Linked DNA regions of Homo sapiens: region 2 is linked to region 1. The links come from fine-mapping of genetic effects on gene expression. A gene starts in region 1. The other region holds a variant in brackets. All regions are shown on one strand. Distances are from middle to middle.

The links. PIP is the estimated chance that this variant, and not a neighbour inherited with it, causes the effect.
Region 2: its variant is fine-mapped to the expression of EEIG2 in nasal epithelium (TOPMed, PIP above 0.99).

Annotation. Positions count from the first base shown.
Region 1 is chr1:108,552,234-108,567,364 of GRCh38, forward strand. EEIG2 (EEIG family member 2) reads left to right here and starts at 7,867. Exons shown (of 11, transcript NM_001010883.3): 1 at 7,867-8,332. The coding sequence starts at 8,196. RefSeq lists a silencer at 7,528-8,067 and enhancers at 8,458-8,557, 9,021-9,070.
Region 2 is chr1:108,525,497-108,540,627 of GRCh38, forward strand. No RefSeq gene overlaps it. Among named protein-coding and RNA genes, the nearest start is that of EEIG2, 27 kb to the right of the region's middle. RefSeq lists a cis regulatory region at 8,129-8,704 and an enhancer at 11,371-11,665. The variant C/T (reference allele first, on the strand shown) is at 8,208.

The sequences.
Region 1 (15,131 bases):
GAAAATTGGTCTTAAGAAAGAAAAAAGTACAATGACAGAAAACATGATATAGTGCACCTCTAAGGAGATGGGAACCAGACTAATTGGAAAAAAACACACATCTCCCAAGCATTTCCACATACACATATGTACAGGTTATATAAGCAAAGTAAATCAACAAATTACTAAGATTTTCCAGATTTGGAATTTAAGGTGGGTTTGGTTTAAATTCTTAAAAGATTTTCGCAACTGTTTTAGAAAGCATCAGTATTTTCTAAAATGCTCTTTCTTAGAGAAAGAGCCTACTTTCTACAACTTCCATAAATGTATGTGTTTATAAAATTAGTATTTAGTATTTCCCAGAAAGAGCTATCCAGTTCTGCTTGGCGGGACAGGAATAATTATATGAGGTTAGGAAGTGATCATCCCCATAGCTATCCTAACATTAGAATGTGAAGGAGGCAAGGAAGTGGGGGGCAAAATTGGAGTTGAGATCACCCACATGCTATCAGTCTAGAGTTCTTAGAGATATTACAATTACTCAAAGAACACTTTTTGATCCACTCTAGATATGTCTTGACTGGAAAGAAGTTATAGAACAAATATTGTGGTTTCTGATAGAAAAGTATATAATCTAGTGTTGCTTTTAAGAATTACAAAGGCAATTTGCCATCTTCCCATAGAAATTTGAAAATTAGATGAAAAAGAACTAGTTATGAAAGAGATCAAGTTTTAGAATTAAAGGAGGTGCCTCAGAAAGTATCTGGTTCTTTCCTTGAAAGCCTTTATTCTCCTGTCAGACAGACTAGTAATCAAGATGATAAAATGTCAGTATTTAGGTATCAATAACATCCCTATTCAACCATAGGCCAAAGAGAGAGGCTTTTTTTTGTTGCTGGTTTTTTTTTTTTAACTGTCATATTCCCTTTGATGTAAACTAAAAAACTTTTTGCTTGGCTGGGAATGTAATTATTCAAGCTCCTAGGTCATTATCTGATAATGAATCCTCAACAACTCTAGTCAAGTTTGGTTTTAGGCAATGGAAAATTAAAGCAAGTACTTGATTCAGTTTTCTTAGAATATATGCTTTTTCAAACAACCCAATATAGCAGTTTTTCCCAAAAATAAATGATGTATGGGGTAAAAAGTCATGGACTCCTGATGTTGATTTAAATTATCATAATTATAATGTTACCTAAGTGTATATTACACATAAAATTAAATATCTTATAACTTTTATATCATTATAAAACAATATAAATTTATAAATTAAATACAACATAATGTCCTAAACATATGTTTCAAATTAACAATATTTGAATGTTCACTTACTCAGCAAACATTTATTTGAGGATCTGCTCTGTTCCAGGCATACAGTATGTAATTCTAGCTGTTATAACAAACACATCCCAAATTTCAGTGGCTTAAAAGATTAAATGTTTAAGTGAATAAGCCAGTTACAGAAGGACAAATATTGTGTGATTCCATTCATAGAGACGCAAGGTAGAAGAGTGGTTTCCAGGGAATGGGGAGTTATTGTTAAATGGGTACAGAATCTCAGTTTTGCAAGATGAAAAGACTTCTGGAGAAGGATGGGGGTGATGGTTGCACAACTATGTGACTGTACTTAATGCCACAGAACTGTGCACTTAAAAATGGTTAACATGGTCAATTTTATGTCATATGTATTTTTCCACAATTTTTTAAAACAGTAATGTTTAAAATCACACACAGCAAATTAAATGCTAATTTCTCACTTAACCTCACAGATCGATTTCCTGGTTATAAATTGCCAATAGGGACCCAGGCAGGTAGAGGCTTTTCTATCTTCCACATCTGGCGTCTAGCATCATCCTTGACGTCAACATCCAGCTATCAGATGGGAGAAGAGTGAAAGGGTCATATGCAAGAGGTTTTTATGGGCCAGGCCTGGAAGTTGCACACATTCCACTGGCTGGAACTCAGTCTTGCAGCAGCACCTAATTGCAAGGGAAACTGGAAAACATAGTCGAACTGTGTACTCAAGAAAACAGGTTTGGTCATGACCTAGTCATCTATGCCATAGTCCATCCATCTGATACCAAAAAAAAGCCATTTCACTCTTCTTCCCAAATAAATAATACACTCATTATTGTCACCAAATGAGATAACCTAAAATCCACCCAGTCACTGCATCAAGTTCAAAGTGCAGGATTTCCATGTAATGCACAGAATTCTCAGTCAGATCTGAATATAATTCCACATCGTCCTGTAACCCAGTTATTCTCAACTAAGAATGATTTTGTCCCCCAGGAGATATTAGGCAATGTCTGAAGACATTTTTGATTAACACAACTGGGAGTGAGGGGGATGATACTGGCAACTGATGGGTAGGGGCCAGGGAGGCTGCTAAACCTCGTACAATATACAGGACAGCCCCACTGTAAAGAATTGTCCAGTCTAACATTTCAATTAGAGCTGTGGCTTATGAACTAATAAAATATCTTCCCTCACTCACACACAATGTATAATGATAGAACAAATATAGTAAATACTTCCAGGTAGGAAAGGGGGAAAAGTGGGACCCTGGCCCATCACAAAAATGAAATTTTGCAGGGAGGCATTGTGATGGCTCTGAGCTGGCAGTGGGAGCTGTTTCTCAGCTACACCCTGTTTCCATTATCTGTGAGGAATCTGCTTATCTGTTGTCCTCTGTGGTCCCTGGCTCTGCCCTCTGGAAATTTTTCCTCTAAGCCCACATTTAAAATGAGTGTCGAGGAACGTGACTTTCTTGAGGAGAGTACAACTTTTAACGCAGGCTCATGATTTCTTTAGCAATACAGTAGTTCAAAAACTGAAAAGTATTTGATCTTTTTGCTTCCAGTCAGTTCCATATGCCAGAAACACTGAGGTTTCCTAGAGATAATTCTCAATCCTGATTATCTCTTTGCTTCTTCACTCCTCTCTTCCTCTCAATTTAAGGAGGCTACTTTGAGAACATCAGACTTAAATGTGAAGACCACACCCTAAATATAATCTTTGTTTCACGGCTGAGTCTTAATGGGCCCTTGTTGCTCAAGAGCTTTTTCAATCTTATTTCCTATTCTTTGAGGTATAGAGCAGTTAGTTTTTCCCATCCCTTGAGGCTCCAAATTTCTGGACTCTCTATATTCCTTTTAATTTATGCTTGCAAACCTGCTAATTATTGCATGAGTTCATCTTATGTTTCCAATATCTTACTGAATGCAGCCATAAATATAACCTACTAACATTCCATTTTTCAACCTCTTATAGAACTATGGGTTTCATAGATATCTTACTTTCTTACCAAATTATTGTAGGTATAAGATTGATGGGAAAGCTTCCCCTCTGCCTTCTGAAGCTTTGCTGAAATGACTGACAATAGACAGATTAACAGGAGAAAAGGCATACAAATTTATCAGTGCACATGGACAGAGTAGTCCTGCGAATATGAGACTCAAAGAAAGACCAGAGGGTTGAGACTTAAATATCCTTTTTGTAGGGGAGAGGTAAAGGGGGAGTGTACGCATTTTTAAGGGGTAGTAAATGCTTTTCAAGGGAATTGAATAAACCTGTAAGAATTGTCACACCTCTGGCAGTAAGCAGTCTTAGCACATGTCTATTCACTCTGTTGTTTTACCTGAGAGTTAACACACTTAGGATAGGTCTATAAATTCAGGTCATTTCAAGAAACATGTATTGAATACCCACTAGGTACTGGGCTATTTAGAAAAGATACAAAGATGATCAGCAAACCATCCCTGCCTTTAAGAAACTTGAATTATAAGTACTGGAGTAGATACTTAGCCTCAACATTCATTCCACCATCCTATCTGAAGAAGTTGGAAAGCTGAAAATTACATTTCTCAGACTCCTTTGCCACTCAATTTTTGGGTGCAAATAAGGCCTGCCAAATAAATTTCCTTATGAAAACACAGGTGCAAGTGAAATGGAGGCTCTCTTCTTACTGCTGTGTCACTTGCAAGCAAGGTGTGATGACATGCCTGTGGCATTCAGACTCCTCATAGTCTTGACAGGTGTGAGCCAGTGGTGGTGGCAGCAGCAGTAGCAGTGTTCTAGTGTCAGCTTCCCATCCCAGCTGCAGTGTATGTTAGTCAGAATAAACTAGACTTATGCTGTAGTGACAAGCATCCCCCAAAATCTCAGTGGCTTCATATAATAAAAGTTGCTTTCTCACAGACAAAATGTTTCCTGCAGGTGTGGGCAGTTGCTCTCCATGTGCTGACTTAAGAAATCTGGGCTGCTTCAATCTTGTGGCTGCTACATCTTAACCCAAGGTCTCCTCTATAACTATTGTGGCAGGGAAGAGGTAGTCTAGAGAACTGCTCAAAGGCTTTTCACTGTTTCATCCTGGAAGTGACGTGTTACTTCTCACATTTTATTGGCTAGACCTCATCACAAGGCCCCACTAACCGCAAGGGAATTGGGAACTGTAAACTCCCATATGCTCAGAAATCAAGGAGGACCGGATACTAGTGAACACTAGTAATGTTTACCACAAAGCATGTGACTTTGAATTCGACAGTCTGCTGACCTCAACCCCTTCAGCCCTTCCACAGATTTCAGAAGCAGTGAAGTGCCTGAATGAAATCCCTTTTTTTTTTTTTTTTTGAAACATCCAGAGTGGTTTCAGCTTCCTATGGTGAACCCTGACTGTATCCTTTGTGTGCTAGTGGCTTTCCATCCCCTTACCTCCAACCATTCTCTACCTTTCAGTGCCCTACTTTGTGCCCCAGGAGTCTGTCCTGTATGAACTGCATGTTCCGAGCCCCTCTACCCTCTGGCCTTGGTTGGTTTTGGATCATGGGAAGCACCACCAAGAGATCAGAAAGTAGGAGGTGAGAGAAATCAGGATATTTATCCCTTCTTCCTTTCAACTTCTCACCAGACTGTGGGTCCCTTACCCTGTCAACTCTGTGAAGAGTCCTTTCATTAAATTTTCCCCATTTAAACACATTGAATATGATATCTGTTTCCTGCCTTGACTATGACTCCTATCAGGGGTTTAATAATCAAACCATGAGTCTAAAAAACAGTAACAGACTGTCTCCTATCTTCCATTTTATAAAGTAGAAGAGCTTTACAAAATGTAAATCTGAATATATCATGCTTCTTCTTTAAAACTTCAATGGCTCTTTGTTAACCCCTGTCACTGTACCCAACTCTAAGTTGCAGCCAGACAGAACTAATTTCAGTTCCCTCTGCAACATGGTCTCTCTTCCTTTGAGCCTCTGCACAGACACTACCTCCTTCCTGGAAACTGCTCCCCACCCATGCTCATTATTCAGGCCTCAGCTTAAAGGCCTGAATTCAGGCTTCACTTACCCTAGAAGGCATTCCATAAACCTACTACTTATCCCTGTTAGCTTTTATAGTCTCCCACAGCAGTCTCCACTCACCATCATACACAGACAGCACTCAGTGTTACATTGTACTGCAACTGCCTGCTTACTTCTCTGTGTCCTCCAGTAGACCGTGAGATCTAAGACAGGGACGGCATTTCAAATCCATAGGACCTATTAAGGTGCTTGGCACCTAATAGACACTCAATAAATATTGGATAGTTCCTGAATGTTATTGAAAAAGATTGAACTGTCCTCCTCTGGTCACCATTCTCTCTCTCTTTTCATTCGCTGACAAAAAAATCAGAAAAACATCAATAAAAATATAATTTTTATTTACCCACATTACTTTGTCACTATCTTACTTTTCACTGTCATCTTTTCACTTACTTTGTCACTTTTCATCTTACTTTGTCACTATCTTTTATGATGACTTCTCTTGCCAAGATTACCAATGACCTCCTAGACCTTCAATTCAGTAGCTTCTTTTCAGTCCAAATCCTCTGGGACTGCTCTGCAGCACTCTCTTGAAATGGTCCTCTGTCCTACATGGATCACAGATTGCTCTCTCTCTTTCTTTCTCTCTCTCTTCTCTCTCTCACACACACATACTCACATACCACACACACACACTTTAGTTGATCTGTTTGCATATCTCTGTTTTTCTCCATTCCTTTATAAGCCCCTATGTCTTATTCATTTGCATCTCTAGTACCCAGCATAGTGCCTGGCACACAATAGAACTTTGTAACTACGAATGTTACATGATTAAAACCGTCTGGGCTTCCAGGCCATCTCTTTCTTCATCTCCTTTTTCTCTTGACTGCTTGTTCTTAGGCACCTTCACGATCTCCTCTTTGCCTACCCTTTAAATATTCTTCAGAGTAACTCATCCTTATCCACCTTTTGGGCTTCAGCCATCAGCGATTACCTCAATTCCCAAATGTATATTTTCAATTGCCAATGCATTTTTATGAGCTAAGGCTGCCTCTCTCTCCCTAGATGTACTGCAAGCAGATCCCATAAAGACTCATTATCTCTTCCATTCCCAACCTGCCCTCCTCTTGCTTTCAATGTTCAGTCAATGAAATTAACATTCATCCAGTGCTCTAAATGACAAATCTCAAAGTCCCCAAATGCATCTCACTGTCTTTGCCCCCTGTCCTGCAGGGTAAGAAGCTTTATCCATTACCAAATCCCCACCCCCGAACCTGCCTCTGAATCTTTTTTTTTTTTTAATTTATTTCTCCTAGAACAACTTACCCCACTTTGTCCCAAATCATTTTCATCCTTTGAAATTCAGAAAACTGATTAACTTCAATTAATTGCTTCTCTGAGTTCTACATAGCTTGGTGCTAGGTTGTGTTTTTTTAATGACCTGTCTAAACATGTCTTCCTCACTAGATTGTAAAATTCTTGAGGGCAGTTATTGGCTTTTGGTTATGGGGTCTAGCCGATGATTGACATTTTAAGCAATTTTTTTATATGAATGAATGAGTAAACGAGTAAACTGAGAAAGAAAATATTTTCAATTAAACCCTTTCAGAATTACTGTGGCAGAATCTGAGTGAAAATGACAATAACTCAGTTTAAAAACATGAACATCACGTAACCAACTTTGTAACATTCATTGTAACAATACATGCATGATTACAGAAGGCAGGTAATTGTTATTCCCCTAGGGAGATTTTTTTTTAAGCCTGCTCTGAAGATTTTGTTTTGTTTTTAAGACAGGGGCTTGTTCTGTTGCCCAGGCTAGAGTGCAGTGGCGCGATCTCCGATCATTGCAAGCTCCGCTTCCCCGGCTCAGGCTAACCTCCCTCCTCAGCCTCCCGAGTAGCTGGGATTACAGCGTAGCCATGCCAGACTGCCTGCAGAATTTGATTTTAAGCATTTCAGTTCTCAGTATAGACAGACAAATTTTTAAAGGGAGGGTATTATTTTAACTGCTTCTTTGCTCTTTTATCTTTTGTCCTGGGTGACAGGAACTAGATAAGCTATACCCCAGAGAAAGCGCCTGCAGCAGTACGGTGCCTGGGCCCTTGATAGTCCCTCAGCACATCATTTTCCTTTTTCCTACCTTATCTTCCTTTTATATTTGAAGGCTCGTGAATTTAGAGTACCTAACGGAAATTTTAGTTTTAGGATTTCAATTTGACCAAAACAACGCTGAGATTTTAATTGCCTCTATTAACCCATGGCTCTCAAACCCAAAGGAAAGAAACCACTGGAGGGGGTGGGGGAGAAAGGAGGCGGTGCAAAAACTGAAAAGAAAGGCGGAGAGGAAGCGGTAGAAGGAAGCTTTCTCTGTCGGGTTTGTCTTTTTTTAACCCCAGAAAGGCGTGACGTGCTAACTGCCGTCGCGGGTTAGAGTCCGCGGCCAAGCCCGCGCCCGCCCACAAAGTCCCCGCCCTCCCTCCGGCTTCCGCCCCGCCGTGCGCTGCAGGCCGCGGCCGCTGGGGGCGCCCCCGACCCCCGAGGCGCTGAGGCGGCGGTTCCTCGAGCCTCGCCTCTCCCGACTCCCAGACGGGCGGCAGCGGCGGCGGAGGCGGCGGCGGCGGCGGCGGCGAGCTGAGCACCAAAAGGGCGCTCACCTCCCCGGGCGAGCTGCAGCACGACCGCTCCCCGCGGGCGGTCGGGGTCCGCGCCGCAGCTGCCGCCGCGTTCCGGCCCAGGCTGCCGCGAGAGGCGGCGGCAGCGGCCCCGGCCGCGGCCGGCCTGCGGCGCCCCCCGGCCGCGCCCCCGCGCACAGCTCGCGGCCCCGGCCATGGGGCTGGGCTGATCCGGGGCTCGGCCAAGCTGAGGCGGCGGCGCCCGGCCGTGCGCCCAGCTTGCAGGCGCCTGGCTCTCACGATGATGAAGAAGAAGAAGTTTAAGTTTAAGGTGGACTTCGAGCTCGAGGAGCTCTCCTCAGTGCCCTTCGTCAATGGGGTCCTCTTCTGCAAGATGCGGCTGCTGGACGGCGGCAGCTTCACCGCCGAGTCCTCCAGGTAACTCGCCTCCCGCGCCGCCTCGCCCCTTTCTGCTTGGCCAGGGCTTGTTGGATGGGCAGCATCTCTCCTTGGCCCATTTGCTCGCCTTTCCCTAGGGACCGCTCTAAAATCAGTCGAATTTATTGATCTGCAAAGTGCTTTGCAAATGGGTTCTTCTCAGCTGGCCTTGGTTCCTGCGCTCCTGACTCCAGATGGTGCCTGGTATCTGCTCTTCCCTCCCAAATCCTCTAGGAATGGGAGCAATGGCCAGAGAGGGAGGATGCTTCTGTTTTCTCTTAAGACATTTCCATATTTGTGAAATGCAAAGTAGAACTTGAGCTGTTAAAAACTAAAATAACCCAAACTGCAGGAGTTCCAAGAGCCCAGCTCTGAACAGAAACCTGTGCTTAGCACAATTCCTTCTCCCTTGTAGATTACAAGGGGACTTGGCCACCCACTCTGAGGCTGGGGTAGGCCTGGCCAGGCTTGACTTGAGTCAAGTGCTCCTGGCAGACGAGACAACGGTCTGTGCCTCATCAGAGAGCGGCGTCTCCAGTTAGGCGCTAATGCTGGATGAATTAGTCTTGAAGTGGCCACTAGTAGGTCTCCTTGTGGGAGGGCTTAGAGCCAGATGGGGAGCCCAGGCCCTGCCCTCATTTTAAAATGAGCCCCTGGGCACTCCCAGAGAGAGGCATTAGCAGGTTACAGAATGAAGCTATTAAATAATAGGTGTGGCATTAATAATAGGTGTGGCAGTGTTTCTTGAGTAATTTCAGAGCTACTCACAGGTTGACAGATGTACCCTAAGGTGCTTTCTTTAAAATATATACATAGAGAGAGAAAACAATTTTTTAAATGAACTTTTGAGTTCCTGAGATCAAGAAGGGTTAAAAGTTAATGTTATTTTGCCCATATATACTGGTCTTAGGCTTTATTTCTGCCCTAAAAATATTCTACTTAAAAAAAATTCCGTCATCCCATTTATAGTATAAAGGAAATAATGTCACTGGATTGTGGAATTGGGGCTAGAAACTTGTCTTTGGGGCAATATTGAAGCCTATGGAAGCCAGAAAATGTCTAGTTGGCTAAACCAAAGGATATATGAAATTAATAGTTTGCCGAAGACAGTTTTTAAAATTAAACTGTGGTGACACATCAGTGGATATTCAGCTAAGTATTTTAAACACCTGTAAGAGAAGAATGTAACCTATTTTGGTGCAAAAAAAATATTGGACCATCTCTTACTTGTTGAAAAGCCTAAGCCGATTCGTGAAGGTCCTGTTGGTGCAGGTGACAGTCTTGCCCTGAGGCCTAGACTGTTTTGCTGCAGGGTGCCACCCCCGACGCCAGGCAGTTAGACTGGCGCTCCTGGGCCAGTGGTGACACCTGGTGGTCAGGGCACTTGTCTACGGGGCTTCCTTCCTACCTCAGTTATGTTTATTTGGCTTACTTCCCACAAGTCACTTATTCTTTCGTTGTAGGCAGTCATTTATTCAGCAAATATGTGTTGGCTTCTAAATATATTATCTTATTTAATTCTCATAGCAAGTCTATAAGGTAGGGGTTCCATTTCGTAGATAAATAAACTGAGGCTCAGAAAGCATAACTAACTTTCCTAAGGTCCCCTCAGCTGGTAAGTGCGATGCCAAGATTCTGATCAGGTCTGTGTAACTTCAAACAGGGTGGTGCCAGATAAAGGAATAAATCGTGTGCCATATATGAAAGTTTCTGAATAGGGAGCTTCCTAATGACTTTAATGAGCAAGGGGTATACTCCGCAAGACTTAGAAATGAAAAAGTTGAGTATCTTGGGTTAAACTCACCCCTTTTTCTTCCAATTAAAATTTGACTTTGATCAATTTGATTTTAAGTAAGATTAGGAATAGTGCTCTGTGTAGCCAAACCAAAAAGCCATATAGTATGGGGGAAATGACTCACAATAAGGAGCCTGTGCCTTTGACATTAGGTAGAGATAGTTGGTGTAAAGCTAAGAGCAAGGATTTGGAATGCGGTGAGTCTAAGCCTAAACCCCAGTTCCACTGTGGTAAACCTGGATGGGTTACTTAGAGTCCCAAAACTTCTGTATGTAAAATAGAAACCATCACTGACATGTGGTGGTGTGAGGATTTAGTGAGATGATGTGCCCAAAACACCTAAACAGTGCCTTAGCACCCAGTTGGCATTTAAAGAGGAGACCAGGAACTTGTCCAAGAAGGTCCATTTGCTTGAGATGTTATATTTGATTCCTTTATCCTAACAACTACAAAATTGTTGGTTTGAGAAAGAGACCTCATTTTACAAGAAAAAAAAAAAAGAAAATCTGAAATATCTAAAGGAAGTGAATTATTTCAAAATCACAGAACTTTTAATTAGTGGGTGCCAGTCAAGGCAGTGCATCTCTAATTGAACGCTAGATTTTAACTTCTAAAAAATTGCTGTATGTGCCCCTTAAAAGTCAGGTGTAGTTAACACTGTAACATTTCTCCTGTAAAAATATGAAATGAATTACATAGAAAAGAGGTAATATAGCAGGCCCAAGACTGCTATTCTTAGAAAGGCCTATGTACAAGGCTGGCCCTTGGCTGGCATCTGGGAGCTTGAATGGTAAATGGTTCCATACATGATACAAAACTTTACGTAAATGATAAGAGTGGCTCACTGTGCCTAGACTGTACGGAGTGGTTTATGCTAAATTCCATCTGGAATTTTGGTTCTTGCTAGGCAGCCTACGTGACCAGCCCTAATACAAATTTTGGGCATTGAGTCTCTAATGAGTTTCCCTGGTAGACAGCACATCACAATTTAATTCTAGAGAAGTTAAGTGTGTGCTGATTCGACTTTGTATCTTTTCATTGTAATAAACCTTAGCCATGAGTAGGACTGTATGCTGAGTCCTGTGAGTCCTAATGAATCACCAAACTTAGGATTGGTCTTGGAGACTCCCTGATGGATGAACCTTTATAAAATAATACTCATCTTGCTACAGAAAAGCCTTAGAGGCACACAGAAAATTGCATATATAGATATAAATAGAGAGACCCAAATATATATAGGTCATATGTATTTGATATATATATTAATATATTTGGCTTTGTACAACAACTAAACATGCAGATCATTTATTCTTGGCCAAGTATTAGTTGAGCATTTACCAGGTTTCTATTAATAGCTCTCCATCTGGGATTGTGAGAAGTACAACAAATATAAGGATCCACAAGGGAATTACTTCTAATGAAATTAGATCATAGATGTATAATTGCTTGACAGTAGAAGACAGTGTGACTTAGTGCCCAATCAATGGATCAGACAATATATTGAGTGTTGTTGAAATTCTAAAGCAAAAGAGTTAATTTACAACTGTAATGGTTACTGACAACCACATTGGCATTTCTGTGGAGCACTCTGGGAGGATGAGTTTGCATTGACAAAGTGAGGATGGGAGGACAGCTTGAGCAAGTCATCAATAGGAGTTGATAATAGATCAGCCTGATTGCAGAGCGTTCATGTTGAATGGAAGCAGAAGATAAGATTAGAGAAAGACTTTGAATACTGTTGTAAAGAGTTTCTTTCTACTCTCTTTCTATAAATGAGAGTTGCTTTCTACTGCTCATAGGGTAAAATTAAACCTAAGATTCTTGAACTGAGTTGTTGTGTGGTTAAAGTGGCGTATCACCTGGCTGACAGGCTGATGCTATCTGTATTCAAGGTTGGGTGGGGGGGAAATTAGAGATGGGGAGACAAATTAGGAGGCTATTAAAATAACCCAGGCAGGAGCTAATGAGAACCTGAACTCCGAGGTGTCTCATGTAAGTGACTGATAAATGATAATCTTATGACAGATGCCTTGACGCCACCACAGAAGTAAAGAAGTCAGGAAAATTATTTGTTTTGTTTAAGGGGAATATTGCATATGGTGGTGGAAGATATAGTGGGTTAAGTTGTATGCTTAGCATGCTACATTTGAGGTGACAGCCTGATGAGTAGTGGGAGGCATTTATGCGGTATGTGGATTTCTTAGATGTTGTCTATTGGAGCCATATAGGCCTGCTTACTAAACTTATTTAGAATTTCCTTACATTGTTTTTACCCTTTTAAAGATTATTAGTGAAAAAAGGCCAGGCATAGTGGCTCATGCCTGTAAATCCCAGCACTTTGGGAGGCCGAGACACGCGGATTGGTTGAGCTCAGGAGTTTGAGACCAGCCTGGGCAACATGGCAAAACCCCATTTCTACAAAAAACATACCAAAAAATTAGCTAGATGTGGTGGTGGGCACCTGTAATGCCAGCTACTCAGGAGGCTGAGGTAGGAGGATCGCTTGAACCCGGGAGGCAGAGGTTGCAGTGAGCTGAGATCACCACCACTGCACTCCAGCCTGGGCAACAGAGTAAGACTCTGTCTCAAAAATAAATAAATAAAAATAAAGATTATTAGTGAAAATTAATTTTAGAAGCCAGTTTTTCTTGGTATTGTTTTCAATGAAGAGATTGGAAAAATATAAAGACTAAAAGGTAATTATTTGTAATAAATATTATTAAAATGGTCAGGGTAAATTGTCAGATTTTTACATGCCATAGTTAATAAAATATTTGGAAAATACATTGTACGATTATGGTGGTCTATTCAACTGAGGCTAAATTGTTGTCTAATAAAATACAGTCATGTATCAGTTAACAATGAGGATCTGTTCTGAGGAGTGCATCCTTAGGCGATTTCATCATTGTGCAAAAGTCATAGAGTGTACTTACACAAACCTAGATGGTATAGCCTACTACGTGCTTAGACTATGTCGTATAGCCTGTTGCTCTGACCACATCGTGTATTTGGTCTGTTGTTGACCAAAATGTCCTCATGCAGTACATGACTGTATTTCTGAAGATGTTTCAAAAGGACAGTATTATTGTATTTAAATCTTTTCACCGTACTTCCTTTGCAAAAGCATTTAAATCACTTTTAAGGTTTATTAAAACTGGCATGGCAGGTTTAATTCTGGCCTACTTAAACAAAGGAATAATAGGAAGAAATTTTTTCTATATCTTTTAGAATTCCCTAGTTTGCCTTATTTTGTTCATCTTTTTTTTTGTGCTGATAGCCAAATAGTTTTCTAAGTTTCACATGAGGCTGTGGCAGAAACACATGTGAATTTGGGGAGTGTCTGGGAAGCTGATGAGCACATCTATGTATTGGACCTTTTACTCTAAACAAGCGGAAAGGATTTCTTTCTTTTGGCCAGAGTACATCCTTCTGTTTTCAAGATTTTAGTTCACTGCACATTGTGTATTTCTTTTTAGTAAACATTTCTTTATTGAAAAAGTAATACAGATTCATATGGACAACTTAGAAAATAGAAAGGCAGAAAGAAAGGAACAAAAATTGCCCATAAATGAACCACCCAGGGATAATCACTATTATAAATATTTTAGTATAGAAATTAGGAGCCTTTATTGATCTGTACACATACATGTATGACCACACTCCCCCACACAACTATCACATACCCTTTTTAAGCCAAAATGAGATTATACTATACTTAGTATGGTTTTTTACTTCATGTATCTTTTCATATCATTAAATATTCAATTACAAGATTATTTTAATGGTGCATATTATTCTATTGTATGAGTTTCCATGACTTATTGAACCAAGTCACTTTTGAAAGGCTTTCTCCTTTCCTTTCTTTTTTGTTAATAGTTTTATAAATAAACTACAATAAACATCCTTATAACCAAGCTTGGTATACATCCATTATTATTTATTTAGGATTAACACTTAGAAATGGAATTATAGAGTCACAGGGCATGCAGATTTTTAAGGGTTTTGATATATATTACCAACTTGCCCTTCAGTGCATTAAATTGATTTTTTAAGATTAGTAATCACTAATAAGCAGCAAATTATCAAAAGTTACTAGTAGTAGAAAGTACTGTCTGACCATATGGCACAGAATTATTTATACACTAGATCCAGCAACCCCACTTCTGGGTATACATTCGAAGGAATTGAAATCAGTATGTTGAAGAGAATTCTGTACTCTTATTGTCTTTGCAGCATTATTTACAATAGCCAAGTTATTGAAACAACCTAAGTGTCTGTAAACAGATGAATGGATAAAGAAGATGTGGTATATACAATGGAAATTATTCGGCCTTTTAAAAAAAAAAAAGGAAATCCTGTCATTTGTGACAACATGGATGAACCTGGAGGACTTTTGTTTAAAATGAAATAAGCCAGGCACAGAAAGGCAAATACTGCATCATCTCACATATATGTGGGATATAAAAAAGGTGAACTCATAGTGGGTGAGGGCACGGAGAGATGGGGAACTGTTGGTCATAGGGCACAAAGTTTCAATTAGGTGGCATGGATATGTTCAGATCTGTTGTACAGAATGCTGACTATAGTTAATAATAATGTATTATACTTGAAAATTGCTAAGAGAATAGATCATAAGTGTTCTCCAACAGCAAAAAAAATAAATATGTGAGTTGATGGCTATGTTAATTGGCTTGGTTTAGCAATTTCACAATATATACACATATCAAAACATTACATAGTACACAGTAAGTATATACAATTTTTGTCAACTATATTTTAATATAGTTAAGTAATTAAAATAAAAAATTTTTTAATTAAAAAATTCCTTATACCCTGACCAGAAATGGAGTCATCAATTCACATTATTATAATACCTGTAATAATAGTAGCTGACATTTATTTGAGCACTTTCCCAGTGCGTCAGGAACTTTTCTAAGCCTTTACATTTAATCTTCAAGATATTCCCGTGAGGAAGGTGCTATTATTACGTCATTACCATTATTA
Region 2 (15,131 bases), 27 kb before region 1:
CTATGTCTATATTTGCACCAGTATCATGTTGTTTTGGTTACTATAGCCTAGTAGTATAGTTTGAAGTCAGGTAATGTGATGTCTCTGGCTTTGTTCTTTTTGCTTAGGATGTTTTTGCTATGTGGGCTCTTTTTTGGTTCCATATGAATTTTAGAATTGTTTAGAAAAGTTACATTTCTAAGACAATGAAATATAAATGCAGCCTGGGCAATATAGTGAGATCCTCCCTCTACAGAAGAAAAACGAAGTCACTAGCTTGTCAAAATAGAACTCTAGACAAATACCTGAATGGTTCCTGCAGGGAAACTTGGGATTTCCTCAAGAAAAGGTTCTGGGGACTTCAAGTCCAATACAGTAGACCCAGCACAAAGCTTTTTCTTCTCTACTTTCTGAGACCTAATGATAACATAGAGGTTAACTCAGAACAGTAAACAGAACAGTAAGAGGGTCACCAGTGGATGAGAGTTTAAAACAATGGAAGACAGAAAGAGACTGGAAGCCTAAGGCTAGATAAGAGAGAATCAGCAGCCCAGAATGTGCAGGAAGGGATTTTAATGCCAGAGTGAGTCTGTCTCTACGGCAGAAACCCACAGAAGCCCAGGGCTGAGCTGGCAGGTGCCTCAGAGGGCAGGGGCAGAGGAGAGGTAAAATAGAAGGGTTAACTGAAAGCCTGCCTAGTGCACAGTCTACACCAGACATGTACCTACACTCCCAACCCTCGTCTCCCACTCCTAAATACACAGAATACCAACTAGTATGAAATCCTGGCCGTAAAAAAAAAAAAAAAAAAAAAAAAAAAAAAAAAAAAAAGTTTCTTTTCTTGAAAAATTGAGTAAACTGGCTGAGAAGAATCAGAAATGGTGAAAATGGATGCCAGTGCCCCAAGTAAAGCTCTCTCTATTCTTGCATTTTGTAACCCCATTCCTCCCCGCAAAAACTAAAAGTCTCCAGCATTCTAACCCTAAAATGAACATGACTAGTGGATAAGTCTATTTTCAAAAGGAATGACTAGAAATGAGTGACAAAAATTTGTGTTCCTCATTCCTTACTGTGATGCCTCTTCTGGTAGGTGACTTCCAGGCCAGGGACTATATTTTCCAGCCTCGCTTGCATTCCAATGTAGTCATTTAACTACATGGGATATAAGTAGAAGTGATGTGTATCACTTCCAGGCCAGGGCTTTTAAGAAAGTAGGTGTGCCTTTGCACTTTCTTATTTACTCTTCTGCCAGCCAGAGGCAGAAGGCACCAAGGCCTGCGGAGATGCTAGTGGTGCCAGGGGAAAGAGTCTGGGTCTCTGAATCACCACATGCAAGAAGCCACCTGCCAATCAGGCATTGGACCACAATACAGATGACAAACAAACATCTATTATGTAAAGCCATTGAAATTTATATAACCAGCATTACCACAATCAATTATCTGCACCCCCCCGCCCCCGCCCCAGCCCACCGCCCAGGTACACAGAGCTCCCAACTACTGGCAGATATTCCATGGGAAAACAGACTTATATACATCAGAGTAAGAAACTCCTAAAAGCTACTTAGAAGTCTCATTCTAAAATATGATGGACAACTAAAGATCACAAGAAAGAAAACAAGCAACATAAAAAAGAAAGACCAAGATAAACAGTATTCATCCTAAGAAAAGAGCAGAGATTATCTATGGAATAGAAAAAATTACATTTTTAATTACTGTTCTCAGAGACATTTGAAAAGACACTGCTTCCATGAAACTACGACTGGATACTCCTACACCCTGCCCTGACTTCACACACACAAACCAAAATAAAAATCCAAAAGAAGAAAGAGTTCTGGGAAATTAAGCATATAATTGCTGACATTTTAAAAATCGAAGGGTTGAAAGACAGCCTAGACCCTCTCCTGGAACATAAAGCAAAAGATGAAAAGAGAGGAAATGTCAGAAGAAAGACGAAACAGAATAAATCCAGAAGATCCTATATCCAGCAAATAGAAGTTCCAAAAAGAAAAAAAACAAGGAATGAAATATCTTTTAAAGCTTTAGTATGTATGTGAGTACACACACACACACACACACTCTCTCTCTCTATATATATATATATGTATATATGTCTCATCGAGAGTTAAAGAAAGATGTAACTATTCCTAGTGAAGGGTGTAAATGAGTACTAGGCAAAATGAATGAAAAAAGATCAACTAGACATCACATTATGAAATTCTGGAAGATTAAATATTAAGAGATTTTTAAGTTAATTAATTTCTTTACTGTGGTAAGAACACATAAGACCTACCTTCTGAAAAAAATTTAAGTTTACAGTACTATTAACTGTAAACACAATGCTATACAGCAGATCTCTAGAACTTAATCATCTTGCATAACTGAAGCTTTATATCCACTGGGCAGCCCTCTCTATTTCCCCTCCCTCAGCCCCTGGCAGCCACCATTCTACTCTCTGCCATAGAAATGAACAACTAGCTTATTTCACTTAGCGTAATGTCCTCCAGATTCATCCATGTTGTCACAAATGACTGGATTTCCTTTTTTATGACTGAATAATATTCCATTTTATGTATATAGCAAAGTTTCTTGATCCATTTATCTATCAATGGACATGTAGATTGTTTCCACATCTAGGCTATTGGGAATAGTGTTGCAATGAACATGGGAAGACTCTAGAGAGGAAGAGAAAAAAGATCACCTACCAAGGAACAATAATACACCAGCATCAAGCTGCTGCTTCTTTTCGTTTTTTCCTCCAAGACACAGTCTTGCTCACCTTAGCCTCCTGCGTAGCTGGGACTACAAGCATGAGCCACAACACCCAGCTAAGTTTTGGCATTTTTTGTAAAGACAGGATTTTGCCATGTTGCCCAGGCTGGTCATGAACTCCTGGGCTCAAGCGATCCTTTCACCTCAGTCTTCCAAAGTGCTGGGATTACAGGCTTGAGCCACCGTGCCCGGCCCAAGCTTATTAGTAATACTCCATGCTAAAGACAGCAGAACAATTCCTTCACAGTTCTGAAGGGAAAAAATGTTTGAATATAGAATGTTGTACTCCACCTAACTATAAATCAATGTGAAGGCATACTAAAGACATTTTCAGATTTTCAATTACTCAGAAATTTCATCTCCCGTCTGTTTTTTCTGACGAAGATACTTTTGGAGATATTCCAGAGAAGTGAAGTGCAAACCAACAGAGGAAGATATGGAATACAAGAAAGAGTAGAACTCACTCAGGAGTATAATGAAAAATCATTTCAGAGTGACAGCTGTGCATAGGGTTTACAAAACAATCTAAATCAGGAGAGGGAGTCAGTGGGTCCCAAGTATAACATTAATACTATCTTCAGGAAGAAAAATGAAATGTAGTTTACACAAAACATAGAATGACCATGAAAATAGATGATATCAGTGACATGGTGAAGAAAACATATGTTTCTTCTCTCAGCAAGATAAAAGAAAGATAATTGGAAATTCCAGGAAAAAAAAAAACGACAAGAATTATATAGAAAAGTCAAGATACAAATATGAAGCCAGCTAAAATGTAGCACAATTTTCAGCAATTTCTGTAACTATGAAAGAGAATTTATTTAATTTAGACTCTAAAATATCCTTCTTCAAAGAGCCCAGAGGTCATGGTCTTGGACCTATAGAAAAGGAAATGTAATTTTTGCATATTATTTGCCTATGCAATGAATATTAATTAAATAGTCATAATAACATAAATTGGGGGGTTATGTTGATATTTAACTCCCAGAATCAAACTGTAAGCAACAGTTTATAAAAGATGGGTTACAATAAAGAAAGAATTTGGCATTAACTCTGAAAACATAAAAACAAAAGTCTAGGCCAGACCCGATGGCTCACGCCTGGAATGCCAACACTTTGGGAGGCCAGGGTGGGTGGATCATTTGAACTCAGGAGTTCAAGACCAGCCTGGGAAACATGGTGAAATCTCATCTCTACAAAAAATACAAAAATTAGCCTGGCATGATGGAACTTGCCTATAGTCCCAGCTATTTGGGAAGCTGAGGCAGGAGGATTGCTTGAGCCCAGAAGGTGGAGGTTGCAGTAAGCCAAGATCACGCCACTGCACTCCAGCCTGGGTAACAGAGCAAGACCCTGTTTCAGGAGAAAAAAATAATAATAATATTCTTGACAGAATATTATGGTAGGTGGAAGGGTAGAAGGTGGAAGAAAGGAGAAAAGGGCCAATAGTCTCATCAGCATATCTCCAGAATGTGACCTCTTCTCACCAACTCCACGAGTATCTCCTGGTCAGCACTACCAGCATCTCTGTCTTGACGACTGTAAAAGCCTCCCGACTACTCCCCTGCCTCCCCCTATGCCTTCCTACAGTTCTCAACATGGAAGCTATACATATCCACAAGTCAGACCGTGTCACTCTGCTCAAAACCTTGCAATGGCTTCTCATTGTACCCAACGTAAAAGCAAAAATTCTTTATATTGATCCACATAGCCCTATATCATCTCACCCTGTTATCTCTCTGACCTCATCCTCCACCACGCTGCCCTTTGCTCACTCCATTCTAGCCCTACTAGCCACCTGTAATCCTTGAATGTGCCAGGCACACTCCTTCCTTGCAGCCTTTGCTGTTGCCTCTGCCTGGAACTCTCTTCCCTAAAATGCTTACATGAATAACATCCTCCCTGCCTTTATGTCTGCTCAAACATCATCTCTCAATGAAGTTAAATCTGACCATCCGATTTAAAATCATTATTCCCACTTTCCAGATTCCTGAACTATCTTTTCCTGTCTTACTTTTTTTAATTTTGAATGTATCAATGTCTACTATATAATTTCTGTATCTGAACACCCCATCAATGTCTACTATATAATTTCTGTATCTGAACACCCCTACCCCCAACTACCATGTAAGTGCCAATGAGCCTGAGAGCTCTGTTTTGTTCACTGAGCACTTAGAACAGTGCCTGTCGCCATACTAAGTATCCAATAAATAATCATGATTATATAAATATAGCCTGGGAGTCAAGAGGTATTATATATGGCTGATGGGACAAAAACTAGAGGTTTAAGTGTTTTATTTAAAGGTATAAAAGCAACCAAGAATAAAACTATAATAATAGCTATCAAAAACTGGGAGAGGGTAGCTAAATCCTTGTTTTTATTATAGAGAATAAGTACAATACATAGAAATAAAGTCTTGAAAGATACACACCAAATTACTTTCAGTTGTAACTTTGCAGGAGGCAGTTTAAAGGAATAAAGGGATAAAAATCAGTGATTAAAAATTTTAATCTTGGTCAGGCACGGTGGCTCATACCTATAATCCCAGCACTTTGGGAGGCAGAAGTGGGAGGATCGCTTGAGCCCAGGAGTTCGAGACCAGCCTGGGCAACATAGTGAGACCCTGTCTCTACAAAAAATGAAAAAATTAGCCAGGCACGGGGGCACATGCCTGTAGTCCCAGCTACCCAAGGGGCCGAGGTGGAAGGATCCACTGAGCTTGGAAGGTCAAGGCTATAGTGAGCCATGGTCACACTACTGCACTCCAGCCTAGGCAACAGAGTAAAACCCGTCTCAAAAATATGTAATTTTTTTTATCAAAAAAGGGAGGCGGTTTTCCTCTGGAAAGTGGGACTGGGAAGTGTGGCAGACAGCTGTTGTTTTTCAGTATAAACTCCTCAGCACTACCTTATTTTTACTATGTATACAATTACTTTGATGAAAATTAAAAGACAATAAATTTTATTTCTTTTTTTTGCTAATCAGCTGACTTTAGAAAATACATTTTTAAGGAAGCAAAGGAATAAGCAGTTCCAGGTTCACTCTAGTACATAAACAAATATCCAATAGATTCCCCAAAGTACCATACTTCATGACTGAGATGATGTTGGCCTTGGAAATTTTCAAAGTGGATGTTACAAGCTGATCACTATGGCTGTAAAAATAAAAGGAGATATAACAACATTAAACATTTGGTTTTAGGTACTTTAACTTCCTGATATGTACCTGTATGGATTTCAAATTTTTCCTCTATTATCTAAGATAGTCACTGTTTGAAAGCCAAGGCCTCCTCTCCCATCCGTTATCTGCTAGGGGATTAGTATAGCATTTTAACATTTGATCTTATTTTCTCCCTTCTGGATCATGTGGATTGGCTTCGCCACCGTATGAGTTTGCCAAAAGCGAGAGTAACATGCCAAACCAAACATCTGTCACTAAACTGCAGGAGATTTATTATTTTTACCTAAAAGAATACTTGCTACATCAAGAATACTGTAGTCATTAAGCCAGATGAGGCCCTAGGCCAGGTGGATGGTGTGACCATGGACACCAAGGTCTCAGAGAACACCCTGCTCTTCCCACTCACAGAGCCCTGAAGGACCCAGCCTCTCCTAGTGGAGTGCTGTCAAGAAAGACAACTAAAAGGAAAGTTCTGATGAGGGGATATGCAAGTCTACAAAGAGTTACTCGAGTCACTTTTATAGTTTCTACAAAATTTAAAGACTGAGAATAAAAAAGGCCCTCAGCCACTTGTTCATTGGTCAGCCCTAGCATCTAACATAAATGCTCTTCCACAACCCCTAGCAAGGCAGGAGGGGGTAATAAAGACAGCTTTTGGCAAGACCTCAGGAGAAAGAGAAATTTTGATTCTCAACACTGTATCCCAGGAGGGTAGGGAAGAAAATAGAAAATTAATACCAAAGGACAGTGTTTCTATATCTCCACAGCATATCTTTAGGATGGGAATCAGGCTGTTACCTTAGTTTCAAAGATCAACTTCCAATAGCAAAGGTAAGGTGACAAGCCATTCAAGGTATTTAAAACATAAGCACTAAAATTTTATCCATGCATTTATGTGTGTGCTTTTGAAAAAAAAGGCCTGTCACTATATTGCAGTCCCCACTGGATAAATATATTTTTTACTAAGTTTATTAGACATATAACAATTTTAGAAGACATCTGTCAAAGACAGTAACTTTAGTTTTAGAACTGTTAATATTATGCCATTTATTTTCTAACAGTGTTTATTATGCAAGGACTGATTGCCTGTTGAGGTCATTCTTGGTTCTCAAAACGAAAACCATATTATTATATAATTACCCAGACTCCCCCTGCACCATTATCTAAAAGAGTGGGACAAAGGATCGGAAGGTGACCTAGCAAAACAAGTACTTTGTTTTAGAGCCTTTACACTTCAGAAAAATCACTCCCGTGATGCTCAGAGCTTTCAATGCTATTAAATCACAGTTTTCTGGCCAGGCACAGTGGCTCATGCCCGTAATTCCAACACTTTGGGAGGCCAAGGCAGGAGGATGGCTTGAGGCCAGAAGTTCAAGACCAGCCTGGGCAACATAGTGAGAACCCATCTCTACAATTAAAAAAATGCAAAAATTAGCCGGACATGTGCACACACCGGTAGTCGCAGCTACTCTAGAGGCTGAAGTGGCAGGATCACTTGAGCCAAAGAGCTCAAGGCTGCAGTGAACTATGATTGCATCACTGCACTCCAGCCCAGACAACAGTGAGACCCTGTCTCTAAAAAATAAAATAAAATGCATACTTTTTGAAGCATCAGTAACCAGGAATCTCTATTAAGCTTGTATACCATTCTTGTCCTGCTCAAACTCAGTCATCTCAATTCCAACCAGATGTCCAAACCAGAACCCTGGGAGCGATTCTTGTCCTCTCCCTCTGCCTCAGTCTCCATATCCAATCATCCCCCACAAAGCCCTGTTGAATATCATTCTAAAATACATCATGAGCTTTTTCACGCTCTCTGGTTAAAGGTAGTCCAAGTCAACACTGTCTTACATTGGGGCTGCTACAATCAGAATTTTTTAAATAAAAATAGTAGCAAACACCTTATAATCCTTACTATGGGTCAGGTACCCCTCTAAGTGCTTTAAATGCATTAGCTGATTTATTCTTCTCAATAACCCTATAAAGCATTCTAGCACCACTTGAAGATGAAGAAACTGATGCACAGAGAAGTTAACTGACTTTCCCAATATCACACAGCTAGGAAGTGGAGGAGCCAGCTGTCCCCTCCTCACTGACCCTTTGCACTCACACCTGCCATCCTCCGGTCTGATTTCCACACAGCAACCAGTGTGATTGTTTAAACAAGTAACTTTTATACAGAACCAGAAACCTTGAAGTGAGAACAGAAAACAACTTTATTCTTTTCTTCCCAACAGCCTGATCAAACCGGCTCTGCAGGACAGGTTCTTTCCTGG[C/T]GCCTGGGGCAAGTCCCTTGACTTTTTTTTGGTGCTGTCAGTTAATACGAATTCTCTCTTTCAGTCGCAAAATGGTCTCATTTCAATAATAAAAATGCCCAGTTCAGCGTGTTGGTTGAAACACTGAATTTCATTACAGTTAATGCTTCCTCCCCACCACCCACCCAAACCCCAAACCTGCTAGGGCTGGCGGCCTTTGTGGTGGGGCTGGCTCCTCTCTCCTGGCCTCCTCCTCTTCATTGTCTCAGCCGCTTCAGCCAGCCAAGGTTGGAGGGGCCAGGAAAGAGAGATAAGAAACAGAAAAGATCTTGTGTGACAGACACAGGCGTAATCTACCATTGACAGACTCTGGCCGTGGCAGGTGTTTAAAGCTGACTCTTACTCTCAGGACTTTTTTTTTTTTTTTTTTTTTTTTTGAAACGGAGTCTCGCTTTGTCGCCCAGGCTGGAGTGCGGTGGCGCATCAGCTCACCGCAAGCTCCGCCTCCTGGGTTCACGCCATTCTCCTGCCTCAGCCTCCCGAGTAGCTGGGACTACAGGCGCCCGTCACCACGCCCGGCTAATTTTTTTGTATTTTTTAGTAGAGACGGGGTTTCACCGTGTTAGCCAGGATGGTCTCGATCTCCTCACCCTAGATAGTCCTCTGTAAGTTCCGCTGATTGGAGCTCATTGAAATAGGCAAAGCCTCGACCTTAGCTGGATGCTTACATACCCACTCCAGCCCCACGTTCAGCTTCTGAATCTGAAGACACGTCTCCAGCCTCTGTCTGCTAAGGTTGTCTGGTGTGGACAGAAGTTCTCTTAAGCATGATCCCCTTTTAAATGACCGCACGTATATATTCCTCCCAAGGATTTCATACCTTGGAGCTGCCAATGCAAACTGTCAATACTAGTTAACTTTCCAAATGCAGTTCCTTACTTTGATGACAGTAAGCTATTTACCAGGTATTTCTGTGACCCATGGACTCCAGAGGCTACAGGTCAAACCTTCCATGTGGTCTCCTTGGAGCACCCCTCACTAGCACACCTGAGGCAAGGTAAAAATACCTGTCCTACCAATCTCTCATGGGGTTGTAGGGAAGACATGATGCATTGGAGATTCTTTCAATGGGAATTTCCAAAACTCAACTATCTCCTTGGCCTTTTCAATTTTAGTTCCTATATAGCCTTAAGATAGGCAGAGGGGTGAAGATCCACAGAAGTGGTTTCAGCACCTCTTTCATAATTCTGCCATAGATGATCTCACTCACTGCACTTTGAAATGTGGGGGTAATTAGGCCCTCAGCTGCAGTGAATCAGGAAGAGTCCCATTTTAACACTCTGTTAGAAATACCACATCATGCCTTTCCATCGCTATTAGCATTAAATACTAAAAAACACTAATCATACTATGTCCTTCCACTGCTATTGCGATTAAACGCTAACTCTTTACCACATTCTATGGAGCACTGCATGATATGGGCCTTGCCTACCTGTCTAGCCTTGTTTCATAACTCTCTTTTCAGGTTCAGCTGCATTGGTCTTCTTGCAGGTCCTTGGATTCTCTAAGCTCTTTCCTACCTCAGGACCTTCATACATGCCTAGGAGATTCTTCCTCCTACCACTCTTGTCCTCATTTGTTAGGTCTCAGCTTAAATATTATCTCATAGCAAAGGATTTTCCTGAAGTATTATAGCTCTCTGCCCCCAGCCAACTATTCTCATTCATATATATTATTTAACTTTACAGCATTTACCACAAATTGTAAATGTGTGATTGTGTATTTTCTTTTTTTTTTTCTTTTTTTTTTTTTAATTGATCATTCTTGGGTGTTTCTCGCAGAGGGGGATTTGGCAGGGTCACAGGACAATAGTGGAGGGAAGGTCAGCAGATAAACATGTGAACAGAGGTCTCTGGTTTTCCTAGGCAGAGGACCCTGCGGCCTTCCGCAGTGTTTGTGTCCCTGGGTACTTGAGATTAGGGAGTGGTGATGACTTTTAACGAGCATGCTGCCTTCAAGCATCTGTTTAACAAAGCACATCTTGCACCGCCCTTAATCCATTTAACCCTGAGTGGACACAGCACATGTTTCAGAGAGCACAGGGTTGGGGGCAAGGTCACAGATCAACAGGATCCCAAGGAAGAAGAATTTTTCTTAGTACAGCACAAAAGGAAAAGTCTCCCATGTCTACCTCTTTCTACACAGACACGACAACCATCCAATTTCTCAATCTTTTCCCCACTTTTCCCCCCTTTCTATTCTACAAAACCGCCATTGTCATCCTGGCCCGTTCTCAATGAGCTGTTGGGTACACCTCCCAGCCGGGGTGGCAGCCGGGCAGAGGGGCTCCTCACTTCCCAGTAGGGGCGGCCGGGCAGAAGCACCCCTCACCTCCCGGACGGGGCGGCTGGCCGGGCGGGTGGCTGACCCCCCCACCTCTCTCCCTGACGGGGCGGCTGGCCGGGCGGGGGCTGACCCCCACCTCCCTCCCGGACAGGGTGGCTGCCAGGCGGAGACGCTCCTCACTTCCCAGACGGGGTGGCTGCCGGGCGGAGGGGCTCCTCACTTCTCAGACGGGGCGGCCTGGCAGAGACGCTCCTCACATCCCAGACGGGGCAGCAGGGCAGAGGCGCTCCCCACATCTCAGACGATGGGCGGCCAGGCAGAGACGCTCCTCACTTCCTAGATGGGATGGTGGCCAGGCAGAGACGCTCCTCACTTCCCAGATAGGGTGGCGGCCGGGCAGAGGCTGCAATCTCGGCACTTTGGGAGGCCAAGGCAGGCGGCTGGGAGGTGGAGGTTGTAGTGAGCCAAGATCACGCCACTGCACTCCAGCCTGGGCACCATTGAGCACTGAGTGAACGACACTCTGTCTGCAATCCTGGCACCTCGGGAAGCCGAGGCTGGCGGATCACTTGTGGTTAGGAGCTGGAGACCAGCCCGGCCAACACAGCGAAACCCCGTCTCCACCAAAAAAATACGAAAACCAGTCAGGCGTGGTGGCGCGCGCCTGCAGTCGCAGGCACTCGGCAGGCTGAGGCAGGAGAACCAGGCAGGGGGGTTGCAGTGAGCGGAGATGGCAGCAGTACAGTCCAGCTTCAGCTCTGCATCAGAGGGAGACCGTGGAAAGAGAGGGAGAGGAGGGAGAGGAGGGAGAGGAGGGAGAGGAGGGAGAGGAGGGAGACGGGAGAGGGAGAGGGAGAGGGAGAGGGAGAGGGAGAGGAGGGAGAGGAGGGAGAGGAGGGAGAGAGCGTGATTGTGTATTTTCAAGTTTATGGCCATATGGCCAGAAACTGGTTAATGATTTACTAAATTATTTCTGTTTTCCTACTGGACATACAGTTGAACTACATATCCCAGCCTCCCTTGCAGTTAGGTACAGCCATATGACTGTTGTAGTCAATGGAATGTAGGTAGAAAAAGAACACACTTCCAGGCCTGGCCTGTAAAATCTTGCCACATCTGATCCCCTATTCTTTTTTTCCATTCACCGCCTTAATAGAGAAGATTTCAAAGACCCAGAAAAGCATACAATCACAAGAGGAAAGTGATCTGAGTTAGTGCTTAGAGGAGAGAGTCCAGTATAGTCAAGATATCAGCAGCAGCCTCACTGGACTATTGCTTGAGCAAAAAACAAATTTTTATTAGGTTAAGTCATTGAATTTTCTCTTATAGAAGTATTCCAGCAAGTAAATTGAAGAAAGAATGACAGAATTAGATTACCACTATATTAAACCCTAATGAATTCATGAATCTAGACAATGATCATCAATGGCTATTATTTGTGATGGGAAGAAGAAGAAGAAGAATATTCACAGAATATTAAATATATTTCATTGCATCCTGGGCTCTCTTTTCTTTCTTTTGTTTTTCAATTTTTATTTTAGATTCCAGGGTACACATGCAGGTTTGTTAGAAAGGCATATTGCATGATGCTGGGGTTTGGAGTATGATTAAACCCACCACCCAGGAAGTGAGCATAGAACCCAATAGGTATTTTTTCAACCTTTGCCCCCCTTCCTTCCCACTCTTGTATTTCCAAGTGTCTATTGTTCTCCTCCTTATGTCCATGTGTACCCCATGTTTAGCTCCCACTTATAAGTGAGAACATGTGTTATTTGATTTTCTGTTTCTTCATTACTTCAGCTGCATCCATGTTGCTGCAAAGAACATGGTTTCATTCTTTTTTATGGCTGTACAGTAATCCATGGTATATAAGCATTAATACCACATTTTCTTTATCCAATCCACTGTTGATGGGCACCTGGGCGGGGTCCATGTCTTTGCTATTGTGAATAGTGCTGCAATGAACATACAGGTGCATGTGTCTTTTTAGTAGAATGATTTATTTTCCTTTGGGTATAAACTCAGTAATGTCATTGCTTGGTTGAATAGTAGTTCAATTCTTATTTCTTTGAGAAATCTCCAAACTGCTCTCCCCAGAGGCTGAACAAATTTGCATTCCCAGCAACAATGTGTAAGCATTTCCTTTTCTCCACAGCCCCACCAACATCTGTTATTTTTTGGCATTTTAACAAAACCCATTCTGACAAGTGTGAGATGGTATCTCATTGTGGATTTGATTTGCATTTCTCTGATGATTAGTGATGAGCATTTTTTCATGTTCGTTGGCTGCTTGTATATCTTTTTTTAAGAAGTGTCTTTTCATGTCCTTTGCCCATTTTTAATAGGGTTATTTGTTTTTTGCTTGTTGATTTAAGTTCCTTATAGATTCTGCATATTAGACTTTTGTCAGATACATAGCTTGCAAATATTTCCTGCCATTCTCTAGGTCATCTATTTACTCCATTGATAGTTTCTCTTGCTATTCAGAAGCTCCTCAGTTTAATTAGGTCCCACTTGTCAATTTTAGCTTTTATTGCAATTGCTTTTGAGGACTTAGTCATAAATTCTTTGCCAAGGCTGATGTTGAGAAGGATATTTCCTAGGCTTTCTTCTGTTATAGTTTCAGGTCTTACATTTAAGTCTTTAATCCATCTTGAGTTAATCTTTGTATATGGTAAGAGATAGGGGTCCAGATTCACTCTTCTGCATATGGACAGCCAGTTATCCAGACACCATTTATTGAATAGAGTCCTTTTCCCACTGCTTACTAGCGGTAGATGTGTGGCTTTATTTTTGGGTTCTCTATTCTGTTCCTTCCATTGGTGATTTTCTATTTTTGTACCAGCATCATGCTTTTTTTGGTTACCATAGCCTTGCAGTACAGTTTGAAGTCAGGTAATGTGATGTCTCTGACTTTGTTCTTTTTGCTTAGGATGCTTTGGCTATGTGAGCTTTTTTGGTTCCATACAAATTTTAGAATAGTCTTTTCTATTTCTGTGAAAAATGAAGTTAGTAGTTTGATAGGAATAGTGGGCTCTTTTTTCTATTTATATTCACCTCCAGATGATCACATTTGGTCCCAGCCTTTTCATACATCTAGCCATTGACAACTTCCACATTTTTATCTCCAGAGCTATTAATTCCAGTGAAGTTCTGGATTTCTATATTCAACTGCCTCCTCAAAGTCTCTACTTGGCTGTCTAAAAATTTCTCAAGTTTAACATGTACACAACAGAACTCTTTACTTCTCTCCAAAAACCTCCTCCCACAGTCTTCCACATGTGAGCAGATGAATCTAAGCCACCATCATATCTCATCCAGTGATAGCTGATGTCCATATAATGAGTTCTTCACACAACATCTAGGGTGCATGAACTTTTCAAAATTCAAATCAGATAATGCCACTTCCCTGTTTGAAACCTTTGTACAGCTTTCTGATACACTCAAAAAAATTCAAACATTTTTTCATGGCCTCCTCCTTCTTGGCTGCTCTGACTTCATTTTCTACCACACTTTCCAATGCACACGCTTCTCAAATCTTCTTATTGTTCCTTGAAAGAAGCAAGCTCATTCCTGCCTCAGGGCCTTTGTATTTGCTATTCCCCTGCTTGGAACTCGGTTCTACCATCTACTTATGGCTTTGTCCTGCACTTCATTCAGACATCCTTAAGAAGGCTTGTCCAATCTATCAAAAATAGCACCTTGCATCCTCCCACTGTCCCTGCCCATACTCTTACTCTATTTTATTTTTTTCTTTGAAGTTATTACTATTTGATATTACGTATTTGCTCACTTGCCAGAATGGAAGCTTCATGAATGCAGGAATTTTGTTTGCCTTGTCCATTGCTGTTTCTTCAGTGCATAGAAGAGTCATTACCAATGAGTGGGAACTCAATACGTATTTGTTAAATAAACAAATTGATTAATGGATTATTGTTGTGGGAAGTCAGGGACCCCAAACTGAGGGACTGGCTGAAGCCATGGCAGAAGAATGTGGATTGTGAAGATTTCATGGACATTTATTAGTTCCCCAAATTAATACTTTTATAATTTCTTATGCCTCTCTTTACTGCAATCTCTAAACACAAATTGTAAAGATTTCATGGACATTTATCACTTCCCCAGTCAATACCCTTGTGATTTCCTATGCCTGTCTTTACTTTAATCTCTTAATCCTGTCAGCTGAGAAGAATGTATGTCGCCTCAGGACCCTGTAATAATTGCATTAACTACACAAATTGTACAGCATGTGTGTTTCAACAATATGAAATCTGGGCACCTTGAAAAAAGAACAGGATAACAGCAATTGTTCAGGGAATAAGAGAGATAACCTTAAACTCTGACCGCTGGTGAGCCGGGCGGAACAGAGCCATATTTCTCTTCTTTCAAAAGCAAATGGGAGAAATATCGCTGAATTCTTTTTCTCAGCAAGGAACATCCCTGGGAAAGAGAATACGCGCCTAGGGGTATAGGCCTATAAACGGCCCCCCAGGTGTGGTCGTCTTTTATGGTCTGTAGACTGTAGGGGTGAAATAGACCCCAGTCTCCCATAGTGCTCCCAGGCTTATTAGGAAGAGGAAATTCCCGCCTAATAATTTT